Regions from separate parts of the Homo sapiens genome. Here all the other regions are linked to region 2. The links come from fine-mapping of genetic effects on gene expression. A gene starts in region 2. Each other region holds a variant in brackets. All regions are shown on one strand. Distances are from middle to middle.

Region 1 (5,227 bases), 76 kb after region 2:
ACAAATTAAAGCTGACCTCTGAGGAAGAGCTAGCTAATTGGAAGCGTGGGAGGTGGAGGGGTTTGGCCGTGTCCAACAGGGAGGTTGGACAGCATGTTACAAGAAAGCAAGAGGCACCAGGGCATATCTGAGGCATTAGAAATAGCTGAGCTCATGCAGTAGGGCATTAACCATGTCCCTTCCATGGTGCTTGCCAATACATTGAGCACCCACAGCTCTTTCTGCTGCATCTGCCACTCTCTATCTGAGAACTTGCTCATAGTGTGGAAACTTCCCTATTCTGACTGAGAAGCAGGCTAGAGGTACTGGGAGTTAATGCCCTCGGGAACTGCCCTCAAGTGCCAATAGACAGGAGGTAGTAGATGAGAAATACCATGGCTTCCCTGTCACTTGAGAAGGAGAACAGACTCCCAGTGGTTCCCAGTGCAGGTGACCCCCAGGTACTCAGAGCATAAAGCATTACCTTAGTGTACCCTGGACTCCCTTCTGTCCCCTGCCTCACTCCCCTTCTTCCTTATTCTCCATCTTAGGATCATGTAAAACCAGACTGTGCCAACCTCTGAGGTTAAGAGCATAGTCCTGGCTGGGTGCGGTGGCTCATGCCTGTAATCCCAGCACTTTGGGAGGCTGAGGCAGGCGGATCACAAGGTCAGGAGATCAAGACCAGCCTGACCAACATGGTAAAACCCCATCTCTACTAAAAATACAAAAATCTGTTTGGCGTGGTGGCACGTGCCTGTAATCCCAGCTACTCAGGAGGCTGAGGCAGGAGAGTCGCTTGAACCCGGGAGGCAGAGGTTGCAGTGAGCTGGTATCGTGCCACTGCACTCCAGCCTGGGCGACAGAGCAAGACTCCGTAAAAAAAAAAAAAAAAAAAAAAGCAAGCACAGTCCTCCAAATTGCCAAGTATGTTCAAGATGTCTGCCCAACCACAAGTTCAGCATTTCTCAAAACCACCCTCAGGTTTCACAATTTGCTAAAAATACCCCCAGGATTCACTGCAGGCTATTATGCTAAGGCTCACGTCTATTACAGGGATATGATCTGAATCTGAACCAGCCAAAAGAGGAGTTCACAGGGTAGAGTCTAGGGGAATTCCCAATGCGAAGCTTCCATTGTTTTCAGGATGCATTTCCACACATGGTAGGATGCACGAAATATCACCCACGTGGGAAGTCACCTGAGCTCAAGTGTCCAGAGTTTTTACTGAGGCTTCATGCCGTAGGCATGATTGATCGAGCCATGACCCGTGTGGTTAAAATCAATCTCTGCCTGCCCCCTTCCCACTTCTCTGGAGATTGGGCTCATACCAATTGGCCTGGAGGGGCTCTACCAGGTGCCTCCTAACTAGCAAAAACTAACAGGCATGGTCCTAGGGGCACCATGAATAACAAAGACACCTACCACTCAGGACATCCCAAGTTTAGAGATTGCCTCCCAGGGGTAGGGACAACAGATCTCTCTTTGAGTGAGATCAGATTTCTTACTGCACAGACTCCCTCAGCATGTGTCTGGGGAACCTGAGGTACTGGCTCATTGGGGGAACATATGGTCATCTGAGGGTGAACGCCAAGAGCCTCACATCGGGAGTTGAGCTTTTCAAGTCATGTATGGCGTTGAGAACTGTGTTCCAAAGAGCCTGGACTTTGCAGAACAGGGATCCATGCCATGCAGAAAGGTACTGGCTTCCATGGGAAGAACCAATTTGTAGAGACTCAGGAGGCAGGGAGATGGGTAAGAAGATATTTGCAATGATTGCAATAACTTCAGTAGAAAAGCTTAGCAACTTAGACGAGGATGAATGAGTGGCTCAGGGCATAAAGGAAAATGGAAAGTCTGCCCCAAAGGATGAGGGCAGTAAAGGTTCCAAGCAGCTGGATGGACAGGGTATGGCTGACTCGTATCATGAAAGGTAGGTGCCTTAAATATTGTTGGGCAAGACTCACAGGTATGTTTTTGTCCCCATGGTATTGACAAGAAAACTGAGGCAGAGAAAGGCTACACAATTTGCCAGGCTCCTAGGACATTTCACAACAAGGCATTCTAATGCATCAGCCTGTGCTTTTAACTATCACTGCTGGATCAAAGGTAGAGAGGCAACAGGTTTAGCCCTGCTTTGATATGAGGAAGGATTTTCTCCCAATTTGACACATTTGCGGGAATGCAGAAAGATGTCTTATGAAGTGGAGATGTGCAGGT[A/G]GTGGCTGGGTCAGATATTGTAGGCATAAAAATTGGGGCCTCTTTCAATTTTCTGATTCCTTAGCTCCATTCCTGATATTTACTGGCTGCTACCCTTGGCAAGGCCTAATGCTCGTGTGTGTGATAATGGTGTTGGGTATTGATTCTAGGATTCCTGGAATCAAAGAAACAATTCCACAGTTCTGCTTACTCCACTGATGTTTTGAGGGACTTGGACTGAATGACATACCATCAGATAAAATTACCTTCTCCAGTTTTTCCTAGCTGGGGAACTTTCTATGAGAGATGAGTTTGCTTTGTAATTGCTAGAGCCTTTGCTAATTGTATTAGAAGTGCTTTATAAGATAACAAAATAATAATTTGGGGGATCTCAGATTATTTCCAGAGGTCAGAGTTTTGCTGACAATTTCAGTTCATTTTAATAAACACTGATGAACATCAGCTATGTTCTAGGTCCTTGCTGCACTGTGGGGAGGAGGAGATAAATTAGACCAGGGGCTGGAAAATTATTTCTCTAAAGGGCCAGATGACAAGTGTCTTGGGCTTCCTGGGACAGAGTTGTCTCTGTTGCAACCACTCAGTGTGACGATGTAGCATGATTGTGGTGATGTGTCTCAAGTGTCCCCAATCCTAGGGCCTCGGACCCCTAATGGTCCATGGCCTGTTAGGAACCAGGCTACACAGCAGGAGGTGAGTGCTGGGTGAGCAAGCAAAGCTTATTCTGTATTTACAGCTACTCACCATGGCTCACATCACCACCTGAGCTCCGCCTCCTGTCAGATCAGTGGCAACATTAGGTTCTCATAGGAGTGCAAACAAACCCTGTTGTGAACTGCACATGTGAGGGATCTAGGTTGCAGGCTCCTTATGAGAATCTAATGCCTGATGATCTGTCACTGTCTCCCATCACCCCCAGATGGGACCGTCTAGTTTCAGGAAAACAAGCTCAGGGCTCACACTGATTCTACATCATGGTGAGTTTTATAATTATTTCATTATATATTACAATGTAATAATAATAGAAATAAAGTGCACAGTAAATGTAATGCTCTTGAATCATCCAGAAACCATTCTCCTCCTCCTCACCCAGTCCATGGAAAAAAAAAATATATTCCACAAAACCAGATCCTGGTGCTAAAAAGGTTGGGGACTGCTAATGTAGCTGACATAGCGTGAAAGCAGCCATAGATAATCTGGCAATGAATGGGCATGGCTACATCCCATTGAAACTTCGTGTTTGGACACTGATGTTTGATTTTCATATAATTATCAGGTGTTACAAAATATTATTTTTTTTCAACCATTTGAAAATTAAATATCACCATGGGGCTGTACAAAAGCAAATGTCAGAGTGGATTCATTTCCCAATGGGCTTAGCTTGCCAAACTTTGAATGAGACACCCGGCCCCTGATTTTAAGGAGCTGATAGACTATTCTAGAGCAGTGAACAGATGAGAAATCATGTCAACACACCGTACTGAGAGCCGTAGTCATGGGACAGGGAATCACAGGGTGGGCTCTTCATGAACTTTGCTTCTTGGAGACGTTAAAGGCTCTTTATGTTAAATTCTTTAGAAAGTGTACTGCTTCTACACTTGGTGAATAAAACGGAGATGAAAGCAAGAATCGAGGTTTGTAAAATCTGTGCTTGTAAAAAGACTTTTGTTTTATTTTAGTTCCCATGGTGGTGAATTTTTAGCAGTAGGTCAAAAACATATTTGGTTACTGAGATAAATATCTGTACAGGTGAATGGAATAGAGATAGACCTTCAAGAAAACCACAGCTTTCTTTTTTTCTTTTATGGAATTCTATTCCTTTGGAGCAGAGCACAGATTGTCTTTGCTGGGGAACATTCGTACTTAATTTTATTGGTTGCTTTTTGGTTACACATGTGGTTTGTTTATACTGAAGTATTGTGCCAGAATCATCTGCCCTCCTGATACAGACCTATGGGAGACATAAGACCAAATTTGGCTTCAAGAACCAGGGGAACAGGTTTAACGAAGGCAGTGTCAGCTCTAGCCCTGGGGCTGGATGGCTTGGAGTTGAGAGTAAAGACAGAGAAGGATCTGAGGCTCAAGCTGATATTCACAGCCATGAATTTTGTGTCTTTTAGGATCAGTGCCAAGGGATTTAGCTGGCTGGAGGGCTATAGCCATTTCAGTTCTGGTCACTACTGAATCCCTCAAATGTGGCATCATGCTTGCTACTCAATACAATTTAACATGAAAACAAAGTCATTGGCTTCTTTTCTGCAACCCCATGTCATGCTGTCTCCTTCTTCACTCATGCACTGGATATTTATTGAATACCTACTGTGTGCTGAAAGCTTTTATGGACTCTGGACCATAGGGTGAAAAGACAGACACATACCATGCCCACATGAAACTCCCTTCTAGCGTGAGACAGACAAAAAACGCAGTGAGCCAATTCAAGTACTGTGGTTAGTAAGGAGAACCAGGGAGAAAAATTGAGCCAGATAAGGGGAACTAGGGTTTGAGGAGGGTGTTTATTTTCCGACAAGTAAGGTAAAAAGGTCATGTGTATTTGTACACTTGAGCAGAAATCTGGAGGAAGTAAGGCAGAGATTGTAGGTATGTGGGGAAGTACTTTCAAGGTGGAGCCTACAGGATCTGCTGAAGGATTGAAATTGGGAGGAGAGAGGTCCAGGATGACTCCAAGGATGGAGGCACCACTTCACTTACTGGAGTAGATAACAAGAATCCACTATCTGGTTACTAGGCTCTCAGTCCAGGAACATTCAATCTAGGAGAGCATCCAAGCAAAATGACAGTGGGTTCATGTAGACCTGTTCCAATAGCTACAGGTTGAGCCCTATTTCTTCTTTCACCCCGAGATGACCAAATCTAAAGCAACTGCAATGAAGAGGTGAGCAGATGATAAAAGCAAGAACAAAAGAAACAGATCTTAGTGTGAGTGAGTGTGAGTATAATAATACTGAATTATACTCAGTATTCTAAGTAAGCATGATGGCTGGGCACAGTGGCTCATGCCTATAATACCAGC
Region 2 (5,227 bases):
TTTTGGAAATGTTTTTAGTAATTCACAAATGAAAGTGACAACATTTAGAAGACAATCTCGGTATTCAGACATCATTATTTATTGACACTTGGCTTTATACACATGCCTGCTTGGGGTCATTATAGTTAGCTTCTTTACTCTTCGTTAATATTATGTTTAACATACTTAAAAAATATTTCCATTTGCAATTCTGAGCAATTTTAAAACAAATCATTGAAGTCGTGTAAGCTTATGCCAAAATTACTAGGTTTCCAGCCCAAGTAAAGAGTGGCCCCAACCTTTTTGGCACCAGGGACTGGTTTCATGGAAGACAATTTTTCCATGGACCTGGGGGTAGCAAGTGATGGCTTGGGGATGAAACTGCTCCATCTCAGATCGACATTAGATTCTCATAAGGAGTGCGCTACCTAGACATCTCGCATGCATAGTTCACTATAGGACTGAAGCTCCTATCAGAATCTAATGCTGCCACTGATTTCTCACCTGAGGCACAGCTCAGGCAGTAATGTTCCCTGGCCTGCCGCGGCCCAGTTCCTAACAGGCCACTGTCATTGTGAAGAGTTTCAGGATGGTGATGGCAGAACAGGCCTTCTAAGAGTGCGACTGTACCATTGTACAGCTTGCATGTCCATGAAACTGGCTTTGCCTATAGAACCTTTTGAACAAGATGACCCTGATTTTCTAATTCGCTGAGAAACACACCAAGGCCAATTAATTTGACTGGCCTTTCTGATTTAAGCTATGTGAAGAAATACACATGTAAGATGATGTATTTGAAAAGCACTCATAATAGGATAGCTGCAGATGGCTGTCATTGCAATTTGTTAACAGGCAGATCTCAAAATTGCAGAGTGGAACCTGTGTATAAGAATAGGGAAAAGGGTGGGAAATTGCAAAACAACTATATAGGCTTTGTGCAAAGAGGATTCCAGCCTTCTGATGTAGCTTTGAGTAGAGCGAGTGCATCTAGATACCCTGACTGTGCTTAGCTGGGTGCTTATAGAGATCCCGTTTTCGAAGGTGAAAGTGCAATTGGGTAGGAGAGGGTGGAGATGTCAGAGCAAAGGAACAGCAGTCAGTTGTTGTCCATTCGAATAGGAGTGTGCCTGGGTCTTTTTTCTCTGGGCTCTCCTACCTGCAAGGGGACTGTCACTTCCTGATGGGGCTCAGGGGAGTGTAGAGCTTTGTTACAAGTTGTGTCTTATCAATGCCTCCTGTCTTTCTGTGGCAGGATCCTGGCTGGGGAGGGAGAATTTGTGTGCTGAGAGAACACTAGACAAAAACGACAGGAGAGGACGGAGCAGCCATTCCAAAGCTAAAAAGCCTGAGTCAAGAGGCTCGGGCAAATCGTGGGGAAAGAAAGAGATTAAGACGCAAGTCTATTTAGAATAAATCACTCACTTTGGGGCGTGCAAGGCTTACTAGAAAAACAGACACCTGAGGAAACAAGGCGTGTGGACCTAAAGGTGGTTAGCTATGCACTGAGACTGTCTCCAGGGAAAACAGTGCGGGAGGGAGGGAGGGAGGGATGCGGGAAGGACGGAAGAAATGCAAGAGGGAGAGAAGGAGGAATTTGTCTCCGGGACACTGTAGGGCAAATGTCCACGCTCCCCTCCCCGTCTGTCTTACTGCCATTTGTTTTCTTCACTTCTTTCCACTACCTGGGCAAAGGAAATTCGAATATGTGAAAGCGTGGGAAAAGCCTGGACCCAGGGGAGGTCGGGGAGAAAGCAAGCCACTTAGGGGCGCGGGGTCAATCCCCAGGCAGGTGGGACGCCCCTGGGGGTCCTGAGGCCTCTTCCCTCCTGCTGAAGGGAGCACCCCTCCTGGCAGGCCTGGACCTGCTCACACCGACGTTTACCTGGACGGAGGGGGAAGGTGGGAGGGGCAGGAAGCGGTTGGTGCGAACGGGAGAGGCGCCTGCGTGGGAGCTGGGCCCCTCGAGACCTGCGCGGCGTGGAAAGCCGCTCGGCGTCGCCCTCCCCCGGAGCGCCCGGGCTCGCAGCTGACGAGACCGGCCCATGGGCCCTGCGCCCGGCCCCCCTGTCACTCACACGCCTTCCAGCCAATGGTGCGGCCTCCTGTCCCCCTCACCCCACCCCTCGAGGGCGAGCTGGGAGGGAGGTCGGCGAGGAGGGTCCGGCCGGAGTTGAAGGATTGAACTTTCCGGCTCAGTCGCGGCGTCTGCCTGGTCCTCAGCAGTGCAGCCCCGGCGCGGAGCAGGGAGCCTCGGCCCGCGCCCGGCGCCCTCGCCCTCGCCCTCGACCCGCAGCCATGGTGCCCGGGGTGCCCGGCGCGGTCCTGACCCTCTGCCTCTGGCTGGCGGCCTCCAGCGGCTGCCTGGCGGCCGGCCCCGGCGCGGCTGCTGCGCGGCGGCTGGACGAGTCGCTGTCTGCCGGGAGCGTCCAGCGCGCTCGCTGCGCCTCCAGGTGCCTGAGCCTGCAGATCACTCGCATCTCCGCCTTCTTCCAGCACTTCCAGGTACGGGGAGGCCCCCGCCCGGGTTCTTTCTGGGGCTGCGGCCGCGGCGTGGGCGCACCGGGGCGCGCGCCTCCCAGCCTGGGCTCGCAAAGTTCTCGGCCAGCGCCGCCGGCTGATCCTGGCTTCCCCTGGGCGTGGATCTTACAGTCGGGGTGCTGGAACTCTCCTTTCCAGCCTCTTCCCGGCTCCTGAAAAGAAAAAGAAGCCCGAGACATCTTGCCCCAACTCCCTCCTTCCCAGCAGGAAACCAAAGGCGATTTCCCTGGGGAGGGAGAGTCGTGGATGCTGGGAGTGGGTGTGTGGATGTGGCGGTTTCCCGGGAATTGGAGTGCGCGAGACTCCGGGCGGGCGGCGACTCCCGCAAAGTCCCAGGCGCTCCGGGGCACTGGGAGGGAGTCTGGGAGGCGCGTCCGGCTGCGCCTGGGGACCTCACCTCGAGCCCCAGCCCCGCAGGTGCCCGCGGGCCGACACTTTGTCTCTTTTGAAAGATGGTTTTCACTCTCTGAGGGCTCAGAGCTCGCTGCCCACCCTTGGAGCCCCAGCCAGGGTACTTGTGCCAAGTCGTGTTCCAGGGTGCGTGTATGCGCGTGTTGGGGGTGCGAGTGGCTGTGCGCGCCTCAATTCGGAACCCCAAAGATTCAAGGTCTTGCCCTGGACTAGCGTAGAGCGTCAGGGAAGAAGTGCCGGGGACAGGGGATTTGGCGGGGCCGTATTCGGATACTCCTCAACGAGTCCCGGGGGAACCGTCCCCCAAACCCCGAACGTAGGTTCTTTCAGCCTGAGGGTGGGGAGTATGTGTGTGTGCGCGCGCGCTTGTGTGGGAGGCTCCGGGAGCCGCGCGCTTGGCTCCAGCGGGTTGCCGGGACTCTGCCCTGTGGCGCGGACCCCCGCGGGACTTGCGCGAGGCTCCGGGTGCGGGTGGGCGCACGAGAGCAGGTTCCGGACTCAGCGCGAGCGAGTGCAGCTGCTGCCTGTACCAGCCCTGTCGAGCGTGCGAGCTCTGAAATCCTCCGCTTATTTTTCTCTTCTCTCATCCTTCTCTCCTTCTTCTTCTCGCCTCTATCCCTAGGTGCCCACCTGTTCCAAGTTCCCAATTTCTCGCTTCAGGGAAACTCTGGAGGGACCAAAAGGAGAAATGGGGGCTGGGGGGAGGGGTTCCCCTGGCTGGGCGGGAACTGGAAGCCAAACCCTTGGCTCTTAAACTGGGCGCCCCTCCTGCCAGAGCTGGGTCAAGGGGTGGGGGGGGGGGTCCCCCTAGAGGCCCTGGGAATTAAGCTGCCAGAGGAGGCCATATTAATAAGGGTGGAATGTGGAAGTGATTCCCCTTACCCTCGGGGATGATCTTGAACCGGCTGGTGAAGCTGGCGCGTTCGCGAGTGTGCAGTTGAGTTTGTTCTAAGTCGTAGAAGCAGCGTCTCGTGGGTGTCAGAGAAATGGGCACGCTCTGTAGTCCTTCTGCGTCTTCAGGGAATGGAAGACCCAGTGCTCACCTCCTGTGGTGAAATTACCCAGACATCCTGGACAGAGCCAGGAGAGGGCCGATCCCCAGGCACCTGGTTTCCAGCCCTCCGAGTCCTACCCTGAAAGTCACTCTCCTAAGATGCCACACTATTGTTTGAAACAACAGAAAACAAAACAAAACGGAGCAGCCTATTCCCAGGGAGAAAGAGTACCTTTTTTTTTTCTTTTTCTTGAATTGTCAGTGCTGTAATTTATTTGTTTTACAGTTTCAGTGGCTAAAGCACCAGCTTAGATGAAGCCAGTTCCCGTGAAAGGCTTTTCTTGTGGTCTCCTTGGCATGATTTCTCTTTGGAAGAAAAACTGCTGACAGAATGCACATTGCTAGACAATCCTGATTACATTTTAATTAGCTGGGGGTGAAATAAGCTGCAAATTACTCAGTTAAGACTTAATAAGTGCTGTGTTTGTAATCAATTGCAAAGCCATTCTGGGAGCCTTAACCCTAACCTGGTAATGCCTATCTGATTTATCTAAATTGCAGGGATTAAGTGTTTTTAAGATCTGAAAAGCCAGCAACACATTCTCCTTATAAAACCCCAAGCTTCCCTGTTCCCCACCGCTTGCCTTCCTTTTTTTTTTTTTTTTTTTTTTTTTTTAATAATTAGAAGGAAGATGGGCCGGGCGCAGTGGCTCATGCCTCTAATCCCTGCACTTTGGGAGGCCAAGGCGGGCAGATCATTTGAGGTCAGGAGTTTGAGACCAGCCTGGCCAACTTGAAATCCCGTCTCTACAAAAAATACAAAAATTAGCCTGGTGTAGTGGTGCATGCTGTAGTCCCAGCTACTCAGGAGGCTGAGGGAGGAGAATCCTTGAACCCGGGAGGCAGCGGTTGCAGTGAGCCGAGATCACACCACTGCACTCCAGCCTGGGTGACAGAGCAAGACTGTCTCAAAAAAAAAAAAAAAAAAAAAAAAAAAGGAAGGAAGGTGGAGCAATCAGTCTGCAGACAACTCATGACTGGGCTACGGGAAGTCTTAAGAAGATTGCTTTCCTACAGGGTCACCCCCGCCCCCAACTCCTGCAAATGAGCCCACCCATAAAGCTGTCTCTGGAGCAGGTGCCTGTTTCCATCTTCTCTTGCACGGTTTCAGGCCATGTTTAAGGATGGGAGAAGCTTGCCTGGCCTCCAGCCTGGATGCCCGCCAGGTATGTGGACTCTCAATTATGAAAGCTGTCAGGCCTTGCCTCAGGAGAGCGCAACCTATGCACTCATGGTGTAGGCAGT
Region 3 (5,227 bases), 66 kb after region 2:
TTGTAAAAATGTGGAATCAACCCAAATGATCATCAGTCAATGAGTGGATAAAGAAATTGTGATATATATATGGTATATATAATATAGTATTCCATCATATATATATATGGTATTCCATCATATATATATATATATATGGACTATCATATATATATGATGGAATACCATATATATATATGGACTATCATATATGTATATGATGGAATACCATATATATATATGTATGTGTGTGTATATATATATATATATATATATATATATATATATATGATGGAATACTATTCAGCCATAAAAAGGAATGAATTAATGGCATTTGCAGCAACCTGGATGAGATTAGAAACTATTATTCTAAGTGAAGTAACTCAGGAATGGAAAACTAAACATCATATATTCTCACTCCTAAGTGGGAGCTAAGCTATGAGGATGCAAAAGCATAATAATGACATAATGGACTTTGTGGATTCGGGGAAAGGGTGAGAAGGGGGTGAGGGATAAAAGGCTACAAATTGGGTTCAGTGTATACTGCTCGGGTGATGGGTGCACCAAAATCTCACAAATCACCACTAAAGAACTTACTCATGTAACCAAATACCACCTGTTCCCCAATAACCTATGGAAATAAAAAAAAAATTTAAAAATACCTTAAATACGCCTGACACTTGACACTCGTCAGCATTTTGCAGTCACTCAGACCTCATTGCACTTCTACAAAATAGTTATTCCTCTTTTCTCATTATGCATATGGGGAAGGCAAGAGTGACAAGATTCTAATCCAGTCCATCTGGCTCTACAATTCATGCTCTCAGCTCCCCCACTCTCCTAATCCTCCACAGCCATACTCTTACCCTTCTCGGCCAGGCAGGATTTGGGAGAATGTCTTCTAAAAACACACTACTCCTTTCTGGTATTGGGCCACTAAATCCCTTACCTTACTCTACCTTACCTTACTCCTTCTAAGAAGCAACCCCCATACGGCTGATGATATTTTATCTCCAGTAGACCTCACAGGGTCTGAAATGAACAAAGGGTGTGTGACCCACATTACAGTCAACACTTCGTCTCTTGCCCACTGTGCAAGCCCCGGCCCACAGTGGTTTTCATTCTCTGGAACTCTGCTTTTCTATTTAAAATGTGGAGTGATTTGATGAGATGGTTTCCTCTGTTTTTGTCTAAAATTAAGGATGAAGTTCTAAAACTTGAATGAAGCTCGCACAGTGGTGCACACCTTTAATTCCGGGTACTCTGGAGGCTGAAGCAGGAGGGTTGCTTAAGCCCAGGAGTTTGAGTCCATGCTGGCCAACATAGCAAGGCTCTGTCTCAAGAAAACAACCAACTCCCCACCCCCATCCCCCCGCAAAAAACAAACAAACAAACAAACAAAAGCTTTATGGAAATTAGAGAAGAGTTTCATTTGTCCAGTACGGGAAGGCTTGAATATCCAGTCAAACCAATGTAAACTCAATTCCTCCACTTTTTAGACTTGAATGTTGTGGTGCTAGAATTTTAAGGAGAAATTTCAGCAGCTCTGAGCACCTGATGGGACAGCCTTGGGTGAAAGCATCAGGAGGACAGAGTTTATAATTTCTAACACCTATGGAGTTCTATACTATTCAGCCCAAGCCATGGGTAATGGCTGGCCTAAAAATGAAACTTTTTCATAGTCAAATTAGCCTAGAGCAGGGTATATTTTCTCCCTGGCTATTCCTACTGCTGATACTTGGTGTATTTGTTTGGGGCAGTTTCCCCTCATGGGGTGATGTTGTCTGGGCCCCCCTCAACCTCATCCTGGGGCATACAAGGTGAAGTGAGTTGTGTGAGAGTCAAAATTTCCAGTTATGAAGAAGCCTGGAGACGAGGAGGAAATGCAAAGTTGAAGGGGACTTATCAGCGCCGATGTCAATGTCCACATTTTGGATGGACGCCACAGTTTCATTTAGTACAAAAACAGTCTGTCCATTTTTGCTTCTTGGGCATGTGGGGAATGTGGAGCATTTTTCCTCTGAAGGTCATCCCTGTGTCTGAGATACCATTTCATGACTTTGGGGATATATCAATTTAGCTTTTTCAGTGTTCATTGTAACCAACTAAGAAGATGCTTCAACACATTGAAAGTTACAACGGGAAAACTTACAATGTTGCAGATTTTATGACTCCATTGTGTGTGTATATGTATTTATTTTCTCTCAGGCTCCAGGAACCTTATTTCATTTTTTATTATGACATTTATGATATAGGGAAAATAATCTAATACTGGTTGGGGAG[T/A]TGTTGAATTGATAATAGTGAAAATGTAAACATTCTTAACCTCTTTCTATTTCCTTTATTTTCCCTATAACCGTGTTATTCTTTAGAATTTGTTAAATACAACAAAGGGGACTCTTCATACTGGTAAATATACATCAAAGATTATATAATAAGGTTAAAATTTGGGATTTTTTTCTTTTCTTTTATTAGTATCATATTTGTTTTTAGAGACAGGTTGTTGCTCTGTCACCTGGGCTAGAGTCCAGTGGCGTGATTGTAGCTCACTGCAGCCTTGAACTCCTGGCCTCAAGCGATCCTCCTGCCTCAGCCTTGGGACTACAGGTGCATACCACCATGTCCAGCTAATTAATTTTTTTTTTCTTTGAAGAGACAAGATCTTGCTATGTCTCCCAGGCTGGTCTTGAACCCCTGGGGTCAAGCAATCCTCCTGCCTCAGCCTCCCAAAGCTCAAGCATCATAGGTGTTGGCCACCAAGTCTGGTCTTTCTCTTCCCTTTCTTTTTAAAAAATGGGGCATGGAGGACTTGGAGTAAAGAAATGCCAACGTTTTAAATGTTAAAGAATATCATCCAAAGTAATTTGCTTTGCTAAAATAATCATGGTGGATATTGCCACCATTATCTCTTAAGTTATTGAAGGTCAACTTAACTGATTGTTTTATTTTCCAATACTAGTAACTTATATAAAAGGAGAATTTAAAAAATGTTTAAGTGAATTGGGTCCCCAACATCTCAGCACCTGCAATATTTACATCCATACTGAGTAGTCTTAATAATGAAATATTTTGATGTTTTAGAGTTCAACAATTGTCTTTATGAGCATGAGAAAAGCAGTACACACCCATTCAAAATACGTAAAGAATGGAAATAGTTGGAGGGAAAAAATGTTACCCATATATCTACCACCTAGCTATTAGCATTGGACAGTATTACCTTCCACTATTTTTTTCCAAGATTAGAAAAGTCTTTTGTATTAACAAGACCTTTTGACTAGTGATTGAGTTAGGGAGTGCAATATCTCACCTCTGAAGTACAACTCTGTGACAGATCAGCCTGGGCACTGCCAGGCACTTCTTTCTTTATGCAGTTAGTAATTTACTTTCTGTTTTAAGGCAGAGCTTTATCTTCTTATTTGTGTGTTGTCACTATGGACTCATGGGTTCTGAAGTATTGAAATGGGTTGGAATCCATTCCCACCATTATTTGTTTTGATATCCAGTTTGTCAAGGTTTGACTTGTGGGGAATTTTGAAGCACACTGCTGCGTCCGTTGGATGAGTGCCTGTCATTCTGGGAGCACGTCCCGCCTTTGCAGCATGACGGGATGCTTCAGGCTTGTCTTGTCGTTCTCTTGCTCATGCCTGAGATCAACTCTATCTCAGAGGGGTCCTGGGGACGCTTTGTTCATCATTTTGTGTGCCTGCTTATACAGTGTTCACAAGAGAGCCCTGGGGGAGACGATATGCATAAAAACATCTGCTTATGCGGACCTGTGAAATTGTGCCCCAAAAGCCATAATCACTGAGTTCTTCAAAAAGAGAAATGGTGCTAGAGAAAGAATGCAGAAGAGCCTGTGATGGAGGCAGAGACACCACCGTGGCTGCTCTTCTTTCTTGCCCTCTGTGCCTGTTGAGATTTTACCAGGAGGAGAAACCTATCTGCAGAGACCGTGGGGTACCCTTGTGTCAGCAGGCTCTCCTCTTAACTTACACCTTATTTGGTTTTAGCCTTGCAAATCAAGTTCATCAAGGGAGGGTGAATTTGTTTATGGAAAAGGCTCAACTGAAAGGGTAAAGGGGTGTGTGTGTATGTGTGTGTGTGCATGCACGCATACATTTATTTTGTAGTGGCTGGAATTTCTGTATTGCTGTTCCAGAGGCTACAAAGTACCATATTAAAAAAAAAAATCCCTGGCCGGGGGCGGTGGCTCACACCTGTAATCCCAGCACTTTGGGAGGCCAAGGTGGGCGGATCACGAGGTCAGGAGATTGAGACCATCCTGGCTAACATGGTGAAACCCCGTCTCTACTAAAAAAATACAAAAAAATTAGCCGGGCGTGGTGGCGCACTCCTGTAGTCCCAGCTACTCGGGAGGCTGAGGCAGGAGAATGGCGTGAACCCGGGAGGCAGAGCTTGCAGTGAGCCAAGATCGCGCCACTGCACTCCGGCCTGGGCGACAGAGTGAGACTCCATCTCAGAAAACAAACAAACAAAGTTTATTTTATGTTCTGGGATACATGTGCAGGACGTGCAGATTTGTTACGTAGGTAAACATGTGCCATGATGGTTTGTCGCACCTATCAACCCATCACCTATGCATTAGCTATTTATCCTGATGTTCTCCCTTCCCCCACCCCTTTGACAGGCCCCAGTGTGTGTTCCCCTCCCTGTGTCCATGTGTTCTCATTGTTCAGCTCTCACTTATAAGTGAGAACATGCAGGGTTTGGTTTTCTGCTCCTGTGTTAGTTTGCTGAGGCTCCCAGCTCCACCCACGTCCCTGCAAAGGACATGATCTCTTTTTATGGCTACATAGTATTCTATGGTGCATATGTACTACATTTTCTTTATCCAGTTTATCATTGATGGGCATTGGATTGATTCCATGTAATGTAATAATTTTATTAGAAAAGGTGGATCCTGGGATTAGTGGTTGATTGGTGGAAGGAAAGGGAAGGTATGGAAAGTCCTTGGGCAGGCATAGTTACCTCTTCACAGTACTTCATGGATCACATTCAGAGGGAGTTAGTAGGAAACACAAGATAGAAATTCAGGCCATGATGTCAGCAAGCTTTGTTCTGGGCAGGCTCCAGTTGGATCTATTGGTTCCAACTGATTTCAGCCAGTTTTGTTATCTTACAAGCATAGGGAGTTTCAGCATTTCAGCAGGTTGTTTCTTTTCTTATCTACCATCCTGCAAACTCAAGAATTTCTGTTAGTCATTGGTTTCTTTAACTCCTCGGGGCACAG

Alleles and levels. Positions count from the first base shown, and alleles are read on the strand shown. Sizes are in standard deviations (SD) of each study's normalised expression.
In carriers of allele A in region 1, the expression in spleen of the gene that starts at base 2,174 in region 2 tends to be lower than with G alone (small effect, 0.38 SD a copy in GTEx).
For the expression in testis of the gene that starts at base 2,174 in region 2, allele T in region 3 goes with a higher level than allele A (small effect, 0.14 SD a copy in GTEx).

The links. PIP is the estimated chance that this variant, and not a neighbour inherited with it, causes the effect.
Region 1: its variant is the best candidate, but not a certain one, in a credible set for the expression of ANOS1 in spleen (GTEx, PIP 0.63).
Region 3: its variant is the best candidate, but not a certain one, in a credible set for the expression of ANOS1 in testis (GTEx, PIP 0.63).

The regions. Positions count from the first base shown.
Region 1 is chrX:8,653,121-8,658,347 of GRCh38, reverse strand. All of the region lies in intron 2 of ANOS1 (anosmin 1), which reads left to right. Among named protein-coding and RNA genes, the nearest start is that of ANOS1, 76 kb to the left of the region's middle. The variant A/G (reference allele first, on the strand shown) is at 2,200.
Region 2 is chrX:8,729,084-8,734,310 of GRCh38, reverse strand. It overlaps ANOS1 (anosmin 1), which reads left to right and starts at 2,174. Exons shown (of 14, transcript NM_000216.4): 1 at 2,174-2,481. The coding sequence starts at 2,275.
Region 3 is chrX:8,663,437-8,668,663 of GRCh38, reverse strand. All of the region lies in intron 2 of ANOS1 (anosmin 1), which reads left to right. Among named protein-coding and RNA genes, the nearest start is that of ANOS1, 66 kb to the left of the region's middle. The variant T/A (reference allele first, on the strand shown) is at 2,263.